Regions from separate parts of the Homo sapiens genome. Here region 1 is linked to region 2. The links come from fine-mapping of genetic effects on gene expression. A gene starts in region 2. The other region holds a variant in brackets. All regions are shown on one strand. Distances are from middle to middle.

Region 1 (5,377 bases), 69 kb before region 2:
GTTTGCCCATATGAATGCTTCTGGGGAGCTTCAAAGTGCACCTTCTTGTAAAGTCATGATGAATTCAGGAAGTGGAAGGAAAAATATATTAAAGTTGCATCTCTACCCTAATTAGGCAAACCATTTTACCATTTAACTTTCTGAGGCTTCCATAAAAAAATGATATGATACCTATCCAAATTATCCATCAAGTGTGAGGGTACAAGGAAGGCATTTTTAGACATGCAAGACCATAATATATTTACTTGCCATCATACTTTCTCAGAAAGCTGCTGGATGATGTGAGAGAAGGACGAGGAGGAAAGGAAGGAAGAGGAGGAGGAGGAAGAAGAGGAGGACGATTATAACCAACAAGAAAGATTATAAACAACATGAACAGGAGAGTCAGTGTATAAGAGAAGAGAAATAAGTCTTAGGTTGATAGCTTCAGCACCACTTGGATTAGAATATATTAGAAAGCTCCAGAACAGACGTCTTCGCAAATATGCAAAAAAGGACATCTGACAAATCTGGACATTCTGAGAGGAGTTTGAGGTAATTAGTGATTAGTTTTGGATCATACTAGTAATAATAAAACTAAGCAAAAAAGGCAATTATTAAAGGAATTGCCTCCAAAGAATGGCAAAGGAAAACTAATCATAGCCTATGAATGACCAAGCTTGGAGTTAGGCTTGCATGATTACAACAAGAACACTGACCATCAATCTGTTTGAAATTACAATGGGAGAACAGGGTGATGAGAAGAATGTGTTTGCATGCAGAGGGCAAAAAGGAAGAAAAAGAGCTAACTCCTCACAGTCTATAGTGGAGAGTCAACAAATAATGCCCACGGTGAAGCCAGAAAATCAAGAAGTAGCAATGCATGCATATTATTTAACATGGAAGTAAATATTAGAGATAAAAGTGGTTGCCTTCTGGAGGACAGAAGTGATGCAGGGTGATGTGCAGGGGACTGTTCATTTCTTAATAAACCATGGGGAACTATATGAATACTTTCAACCATGTGCATGGGCAGTTTGATAACAGAAAATTTAAAAGAAAATGTATTAATAATTAGATAAAGTCTATGAAAGAGTCTGCACTCCCAGTGAATGCTGCTTCTGGGGAAGACAATTTTTCTTTTGAAAAAGAGAAGTGAATTACGCTACATTTTGAAGGACTGTTTTTCTTTTAAACATATTAAACATTTTCTTGTACTCATATAGTACCTTAACATTGCAGATTGATGTAATTATCCCTATCTTTGGTGATGAAAAATCAGATTCAGGCTGTCACTTGTCCAAGGTCACATAGTAAGTCATTAGTGCCAAATCTTTGTCCCTAAAGAGCCAATGCCAAGTGCTTTCTACCCAGTCAGTAATTGGAAGCTCAGTTCCAAGACCATTAGTCACTAGGGGATTGCCATCCCTCCACAAGGGGACAAATTTGATCACTACCAGTGGTGTTCAGGATCTGTCTGCCCATTGCCCATATCACTCACCTCTTTTGACTCACATCAGACATTTGGAAGACGACTGGCTGGCACTGGGATGATTCCTGTGGCCATGATACAGAACCCAGATCACTGGCCACAATGGGAGGTGAACTCTTGACCCTGGACTCATTACAGGAACAGAGACGCGCCTATGACCATATGTGCTCTCTTCTTGGGCTAGAAGGGTGGCCAAGCCCTGCTCACCAGCACACTTGGATTGCTCCTCACTCATCACCCACATGGGGCAATGGCTAGAGTCTGGGGTGAAAGATTTAGGACCAAGGTTTGTGGTTGGATGGTCCTGCCTGGGACATAGATGATACACAGCTAGGGAGCTTCAGAAGAGTGAGAACAAAAGAATACCAATCATATTTCATGAAGAAAGAGGAAAGTGCTTTGCTTTGAAACTAAGGAAGGAAGAGCCTGGAGACATGCCCTGGGCTGCACATGACTCCCAGGCTCATTCATGTTTCTCTTGAAAATACTTAGAGATAAGTACAATATTACCTTAAAATCCACAGTTGTCAAGAAAGACCTTTCATTTCCCCAAAATGACAGTGAATCTTTCCTGCCTTGACTCCTGCCCTGTTCATGGTCTGCACCGCCAGTCTGGCCCTTAGCTTTCACTGCTTCATGACTATTAGTTGTGTTTTCACATGTAAAAATCTTAACTCCCAACTAACACCGTGCCAGGAACAGAAGGAAACACTTGGGAGTTCATCCTCTCTCTTTCCTTTTCTATCTCCTCTTCCCAAATGAGTCACCAAACAACTTTGGGTGTCTACCTGCTTTCAATGTTCTAAAAAAGCCTTTTCAAAGTCTGACCAATAACACACAAAATCCTGGTGAACAGGCCAAGCACAGGGCAGAGCTGAAAAATTCCTGCTTAACCTGAATCATTTTTCCCATACCAATATCCAGGTATTGGTTTCATACAATGTATCATAATAATTTAGTTCATTGCATCATAATAATGCTTTGTGCAGTGACTATAAAGGAGGACTCTGTTAGGCAGTGTCATTCGTGTAATTGTTAATATCTCACTTTCTTGGAACATCCTAACTTCAACCTCTGAAGGAAAGGGATTGGCACTCAAAGGACTCAAAAAGCCCTGACTTTGCTTCCCATCCTGGGGAAGTCAGAGCAAATCACAGACCAACTGAAAGAAGGAGTTTCCATTAACACTGACATAGGAATCTTTACAAAAATCTTCCAATCATATGAGGATTGCTTTTGCCTAGACATAAGGGCTACAAAATGCCTACACCTGGCCAAAGGGTCTAA[A/G]TTGCTCCAGCAGCCAAGGGGGAAATCAGCCTGACCCATTTCTACCAAATATTCTTATTCTCAGCAAATCTACAACTGATGAGTGGGACATCTATGGCTTTAAGGAGAGTCTGATGTGTGAATTGTAGCTTGAATTTGTATTAACATTCTCATCTGCCAGCCACTTCCTCAGCTGCCGGAGGATCTTTGCACCATCTTTTCCACCCTCAGTTATATGGCCACAGTGAGTTTATTCACCATCTTCTTGGTTTATGAACGTATTTTTGCTAGTGGTTAAGTGACACATTTCTGGCACATTAATAATGGGACCCAACTTCTGTCAGGAAAGTCTGAATTATCCTAACAAAGCTTTGCTCTGTTAGATGCCATGTGTCTTGCTGTTGAACTGCTCTTGTGAATTTTGTCCTCCTGAAGCAAGTGTAGGGTGAAATGAGAGAAATAACTTTCCTTCCTGTTGACTTGTCTTTCTCAAAAATCTCCAGGCCCCACTAGAAATGCTTTCCCAGTGGTTCATAAAAGACCTCAGTCTCGCTTTGCCTCTCCTTCCACAGGGACTGAGGCTGAGACTGTTCGGTGCCTCTTTATCTGTTCTTTCCTTCTTCTAGAGTGTGAAAATTGCAGTGCATGCATGCAGAGAATAAAGACGACATTCTGAGCCTCCCTTACAGTGAGGTATTGTCCTGTGACTAAGCTCTAGCTAACAGGATTTGCATGGAAGTACTGCATTCAACTTCTGGATTGCACACTTCAAGGGACAGGGAGAGTTCTCCCTGTTGTTTCTGCCTTGCTGGCTGAAACGCATCCATGGTGGTGAGACACCTGGGACTCCACAATTAAGGGCAGTACCTCGTGGAGTGTGAGAAGCAATACACAAGAAGCCTGGGACTCTGAACACTTTGTGGAACAAAGCCACTACAGCAGCTCAGACTTTTTCAAGAAGAAATAAACTTCCATTTTTAAAGTCTGGGGTCTTTGCCAGTGTTGTTTTAGGCCTCTGTGACAGTTTCCTAATTAATAAATGAACTTCTATAATAAACAATTGCAATGCAGTAGCACCACAGAGAAGCAATCACCTTCCCATAATTCCCAATATCACCACCAGTCCCTCCAACTCAAAATAGAGTGGGTTCCTGGGTAGAGGCCAGCCCTGGCTCTTGGTCATTGGTGCTCCCAGGGACAGCAACATAGAGGGTGCTGGTATGGTTATTGCAGACAATTTACTGCCTCTCACTACCAGACATATGAGGGTTTTTTTTTTTAATAAAATGCACAAAACAAAGGAGCTGGTCATTTTGCTGTGTCTCCATTGTGGCACTACAACCAAAGACAAACAGTACCTGCTTGCCTGCTGGAGAAGGCAAAGACAATGATGTCATCAAAGGTCCAGGTGTAGTCCTGGTGTGGGGGGTAGAAAGTCAGCTTGTCCGAGGCCTCCTTCCTGAGGTCAATTAGGAAGGTGGAGTGGACCATGGGGACGGGGAAGCAGCCTGTCCTCTTCCATTCTCGAATCTGAACGTAGTCTGGGGTCCTCTTATAGAAGCCCTGTAAAAGAGCAAATAGGTGGGTTGTGTTTTCTGATTTGAAGTCTTCATCCTTCTCAGTCATTTGCTAGACTGATTCCTTTCAAGTCATTACCAGCTATATACAAGCTCCCAAACAAAGCCACCTTCACTCCTCTTATCATGGCCTATGAATTTCCAAGTGAGCACAAGAAATGCTGTCTACATATAAAATAATACTAAAAGGGTCTTGATATAAGAAGTAACTTTTATTTCAGCATATCTCTAGATTTAATAATTTCATAAAAGTGTATTTTATGTTGACTTATGATTAAATATGAAGCATGAGTATTAAGAAGTGGCAGAGCAGTTAAGGGCACAGGTTCCAGTGTCAGACTCCCTGAGTTCAAATCCTACCTCAGCTACTTATTGTCTGTAGGTATGGGTCAAGTGACTCAACCTTGCTGCGCTTATTTCCTCATCTCTAAAACAGGGATGACGGCACTATCTACTCCATGGGGTTAGCTGTAAAATTTAAGTAAGGTAGAACCTGAATAGTGTTGAGACTACTGCCCAGCACCAAGAATGTATCAGCAAATACCGGCTCCTATTAAAATGACATTACACTGTGGCTAATATTTGTAATTAAACATGCATTACTTAGATATACAAATGAGGGTCTTCTTTCAATGCAGTTACTTAGTCAATATTCTGGTGAAGCTGCAGCTGCTCCATAGTTTTTGGGGATTCAGCTTCTGAAACGTCCTTCTGCACAAGCACACAGGACAACCAATTTCCTTATTCCAAAGCTTGAATCATTTCCAGAAAAGATGAAGATATATCTCAACAAAACATGCTTACAAAACATACTTGTGGAAGCTTTGCCAGGCATTTTGGAAAATGTTCTAGGTGATGGCAGGCTCACTGGAATGAGTGTTAAGTTTTGCAAAGCCAGCACTCCGAAGGGCACCATACTCTGGAAGTTCTTATGTGTTCATTAATCAGTTGCATCACTTCATGGTTACATTTCCTGTTGTAATTCAGCATCCACACATAAGGTGCTACAGCCTCACCTACTTCTCTGACATTCCCTTCAGGTTCTAGAAGAGTGTCCTAGCTG
Region 2 (5,377 bases):
ACTAAGTGTCCACTCATCAAGAAGACATCCATATCCATACAACTGCCCCAATCTGATTTATAAATCATTTGGTTCTTCCCCAAACCCTTTAAAAGCCATTCAGATCACCTTACACTGCCCAGTAAAATGAATCATATTTATCTGTAAAAAAACACACATATCTAAATACACTTTTTTTCAGCCCTGATCTGGCTGGTTCTTATTTTAAAAAATGCATTAGAAGAATATGCTTGTACAGCCTCTCTGTACCTCAGTTCTCTCACCTGTAAAGTGGTATAATAACAGTGCATATCTGATAGGGTCATTTTGAAGCTTAAACCAGAAAATGAATGTGAAGTTCTTAGAAGAACCACGAGCTCTTATTATTATGTGTGGAATTTATAAATAAATGTAATTTTGAGTAAGTCAATCACTTTAAACACATTTCTTCTTCTGGGAAATAGAGATAATTTTATTTCTTCACAGAATGGCAGTAAGAATCAAATGAGTTAACAGTGCATGGAAGTTATTTCCAAAGGTTCTTTACAGCTCCTTTGTGAGCTGAAAAGAACTATTTAGAAACTGGGATTTGTATTATTGTTACCTAAAGAATTACACAATGTTTTAAAGACAGAACCAAAATTTTTCAAAGAAGAGTCTTCAATGACTGACGCAAGCATGGCCTTGCACTTCTTGCTTAACCTGCCAATGCTGGACATAAAAGACAACAGATTTCAAAGGTCTATGCAGAACTGGAATTCTCTCATCTAAGTAAGACACCAGTGTCCATACCATCTGGAACTTACAGGGAACTTAGGATGTACATTGATGCTGGTTGATCCTAATTATATTGCAAAATCTATGGAATTCAAGAGCCATAAAGAATTTTTGAAATCATTTATTCCAACTCCCTCGTTTTATTGATGAGGCAACTGATGCCTATGGATCCCAAGCAACCAGCCCCAAATCACATATCAAACTAGTAATAAACAACTCAAGTCTCCTAATTTGTAGATTATAGGCTTATGTAAATTTTGTTTATATCATGTTTCCTGCCTTTTTAGGGTGGCCTTGGGTTCAAATTCCAGTTTCACCATTTATTAATTCTGTCACTTTAAGTGACTTACTGAACTGATGCAAGTCTGTCTCTTTCTTTGCAAAATAAACATCATAGCATCCTCTTAAAAGTTTACTGTATGATAAAAAGAGGTAATGTCTCTAAATCAGGTAGCAAAGCATGTGCCTGACACCTGCTTCACCACTCACCAACTTCTTATGGTAAATACTGTAACGTTTTAAAAAACTAAATCATGCATAAAGATCAAAACCATATTTTAAAATATCTCTTAAAAAAAACACAACAACTAAGGTAACTGATATGTGTGAATTTCTTTTGGTACCGAAGTGGTTAAAAAAAAATCCTTCCTTCTGGTTTAAAGCCTGGCTGTCCCAGTGCTCTCTTTCCACATAATATGCCCTTCTCCGCCAGGCGGTCACGTATGGCAGGGTATATAGTAAAGCAGTGTACAGCACAGAGCTGTACTATATCACATGTTTGCTTTCGCACCTTTGCACCTCTCCCACCAGGTACTCTGAGGCTGCCAATTCTAGCTGCTGCTTTTACTCCTCTTCCTCTCTTTGCCCAACCGCTGCTTTAAGGATGTGTCTCGCCTGAGAACAGCTCCCTTTATCAACACAAGACAGAAATTGCTCCAGAGTGACCTGGGCTCTGTCTTCCTCAGGGGGCCAGAGTCTTCTTGTCCGAGTACCTACCTGACAGCACATCTCCCCTGGCCAGCATCCACCTCCTTGTCCTCCACAACCCACTCAGCGGCTAACCTGGCCACCAACTAACTTCTCGCCCTCGGATCCTCGCGTTTATAAAAGGTGCGAGACGACCAAGTTCTACAAGGTGGGGCGGGCAGGCACCCGCACTTATCCCCTGGCCCTCCCCGCAGCAGACACAGGGACCAGGTCCAAGCTTCTTTCCTCCGGGGACAAAACTTGGCTGTTTATCTTTCCCAGGGCATCTTCGTCTCTCCCCGGGACGTGGAACCCCGATGCACCGGCAGGGACAGCCCGGAGCGCTCGCAGGAGACCAGGCCCACGGTGGTGCCATGGTTGGGCACACTCCGCGGGCTCCGCCCAATCTCCACCCCTAGGTCCAGGTCCCCCTAGGAGAGCTAGGAGCACATTTCCAGCCTGGAGCAGGAGCCCGGCACCGGAAAGTCAGAGCAGCGCACTGCGGCGCCCCAGCCACTGCGGAGCCCCTGGCCAACCGCAGTTACGTTCCATCTGTCGTATCTACATGGGAATACGGCGACAGGCACCCTATCCCCTCACGTCAGGGCTAGCAGTATGAGGTGGGGAAAGAGGAAACCTCGAGAGTTAAAAGCGAGGGAACTGAAAGTCCCCTTGAGGGGTGTCCCCCATGCCCCTTGTGGGACAAAGCCCCAATTCGCAGGCTACCCTCCAGAGCTCCAGCGGTCCGGTTCTCCCCATCAGCACCCTCTGCGCACACTGACCCGCGCGTCCCTCCGCAGCCTGACCGCCCGATCCGCCAGCCACCGGCGCGGGCAGCGAGGGGGTGTGTGCGCCAGATTTTCCGCGTGCCCCCCCGCCCCTCCAGCGGCTCCCTCGCCCTGCAGCTGCTGCTCCGGGCGCTGTCCGCGCTGGGCAGGCCGCCCCCGCGTCCCGCCGCGGCGGCCCGGGGCCCGTGCGCGCTCACCAGATGGCCATCCTGCTCTTGGGGTAGTCCAGCCGCTCCAGGCAGCCGAGGAAGTGCGGCAGCGTGTGCGCCGCGTTGCGGGCGAGGACCGCCACGAGCACCGTGGGGCTCTGCAGGGGCGACTCCGGGAAAACCACCGGCTCCTCTCCGTCGTCCTCCGAGTCCCGCTCGGCGACGAAGCGCGCTCGGCAGCCTTCGCGGAGCAGGGCTGAGGAGAGGAGCAGTAGCGACCAGGCGAGGGTGGCAGCAGGGCGCGCAGCCATGTTCCGGGCCGAGGCGGGCGGCGGGGAAGTCCTGGCGCGAGCGCCCGGCTGGGCTGCCTGAGGGCGGCGGCGGCTGCCGGGGAGCAAGGGGCTGCGAGGGGCGGCCGGGGGATGCGGCTTGCCGCGGCCGGCCGGCTCACACACTGGCCTCGGCGGCTGCGGTTCCCAGGACCCTCCCGCCGCCGCTGCACCGCCCAGGCCCCAGTGCGGGTGCGCAGCGTACCTGCAGCCGCTGGCGCTCCCCTGCGCCTCGGGCTCGCAGACAGTAGTGGCCGAGGGGCTGTGTGCCCTGAGTCCTGAGGAAAGTTCCTCTAGTCCAGGTTCCGCTCGTACAGCTGAGGTCTGTGGCCTTCCCTAGAGCCGCGAGTTGTGGCCCTGTCTGCCAATGAGCCTGTGAGTGTGTGTGTGTGTGTGTGTGTGTGTGTGTGTGTGTGTACATAACGGTACAACCCCAAGAAAATTTATTCTGCTTTTGCAAACCGCAGACTGAAGCCCTTCACAGTGATGCAATGTATCCAGTTTTCATAATGCACCTATTGACTGAGTAGAGTTCTAAAATGAAAAGTCTCCCCAACTATTCACGATTATGACAAACACTTGTTTAACCACCGCAAAGGCAGCATGTCGCATTTTCTTATATACTCAACTTCTGAAATTCATTCTTGACTGAGTAGACACCTAATAACACAAAGTTTGAAGACTTGGAGAATTTTGGAGCCAGATCAGACCCCGCAAAATAAAAGAAAGCCCTTGGGAGACACTGTCCTGAAGCCTCACTCTACTGTGAACCCAGTAAGCCTCCTCACAGGAGGGCTGTGAAAGAATAAATTCACTTAGCTGGTTTTCTTTTTCCGTAATAAGCCAATATGATAGAGTAACAAAGAGGGAAAATTCGCGCATGTTGGAGAGCAGAGAAGAGATAAGGAAGAAAAGAAGGGGTGAAGGAAGAACACAATTAGCACATAAAATGAAACTGCTGGCATACACTGCTAAAGGAGATTTACTTTTTTTTTTTTTTTTTTTTTGAGACAGGGCCTCACTCTGTTGCCGGGGCTGGAGTGCAGAGGCACGATCACAATTCACTGCAGCCTCGACCTCCTGGGCTCAAGCAATCCTCCCACCTCAGCCTCCCGAGTAGCTGGGACCACAGGTGTCCATCACCACGCCTAGCTAATTTTTTTTTTTTTTTTTTTTTTTGTAGAGACGGGTTTTCACCATTTTGCCCAGGCTGGTCTGGAACTCCTGGGCTCAAGTGATCTGCCCAACTCGGCCTCCCAAAGTGTTACGATTACAGGCATCAGCCACCATGCTCGGCTGGATATTTAGTTTTGAAGATATATTGTGTAGCCTTTGATAGATAAGTATGGAGGGTGTTTTGGTGCCAGTGCACATTCATGATCTCCAATCCCAACTCACCCTCAGGTCTGTCCCATAGTCTTTTTATTAGTTGTTATCAATCCTTCTCAGCAACTATTAGAAGTCTTCCCTACTGTCTTTTGAAGTATATCACCTCCTTCATCCAGCTCCCCCAACACCACTGTCTCCAACTAGCATCCCTACCAAGACCTTTCTTACTTGCAGGTGCCTCCTCACGACAGGGTCTTTGATCACAGACTAGAAAGGGAGAGGTCTCCCTTTCTAGCCCATGATTTTTCTCTATCATTCCACTCTCTACTGAATCTTCAACTGATCTCTATCAACTCCTTTCTCTCAAGCTAAATACTTGGTCAGTCTTCTCTTATCCGTTAAAAAAAAAAGAAAGAAAAGCTTTAAAAAAAAGTCCTGTGTCTTCTTCTAGTCATCCCTTTGCTTGACCAAGCTCCTTGGAAGAGAGATCTATACTTGTATTCTCCACTTCTTCATCTCCCATCTTTCCCACCACAGTGCAGTAAGGCGTCAGCCCTCCCCACTGTTCTGCAAAACCAACAGATGGCCTCAGCATTGGCAGATTCAGTAAACTCTTCCGTTCTCACCTTCCTGGACTTCGATTACATAATCTCCCATCCTAGATCTCCTCTGATACTACTTGTCTCTGAGCCAAGCCCCTTCACTGTGTGCCTCCCTATAGTGTGCTAGTCTTCCCACTCCATATGGTCTCCTGTGGTTATATCCTCAAAATCTATGTCTTCTGCTCTAATCTCTTCTCTAATCTTCATATTTTTTTATCGAATGGCCTACAGACATTTCCTTCCCCTCCATCCATTTTCAGGAATTGTTCCCACTTTCAAGGGGCTCACAGTCTTGTAGGGAAGACTGAGAGTTAAACATCTGTTAGAAGTACTGTAACAGATGTACCAGCTACAGTGAAGGGATAGAGGAAGATGTGGTCATTTCCACAAGGGAGGTAGTGATGGGACTGTTAGAAAGGTCCAGACAATCTCCATGTTGTTCTGTCTTTCTTGTTTCC

Direction of the effects. Alleles are on the strand shown, and positions count from the first base shown. SD is a standard deviation of normalised expression in the study named.
As copies of G replace A in region 1, the expression in tibial nerve of the gene that starts at base 3,341 in region 2 goes up (small effect, 0.22 SD a copy in GTEx).

Evidence for each region. PIP is the estimated chance that this variant, and not a neighbour inherited with it, causes the effect.
Region 1: its variant is fine-mapped to the expression of COLGALT2 in tibial nerve (GTEx, PIP above 0.99).

The regions. Positions count from the first base shown.
Region 1 is chr1:183,965,174-183,970,550 of GRCh38, forward strand. COLGALT2 (collagen beta(1-O)galactosyltransferase 2) reads right to left here. Exons shown (of 12, transcript NM_015101.4): 5 at 4,096-4,300. Among named protein-coding and RNA genes, the nearest start is that of COLGALT2, 70 kb to the right of the region's middle. The variant A/G (reference allele first, on the strand shown) is at 2,759.
Region 2 is chr1:184,034,388-184,039,764 of GRCh38, forward strand. It overlaps COLGALT2 (collagen beta(1-O)galactosyltransferase 2), which reads right to left and starts at 3,341. Exons shown (of 12, transcript NM_015101.4): 1 at 2,708-3,341. The coding sequence starts at 2,970. RefSeq lists a silencer at 3,064-3,153.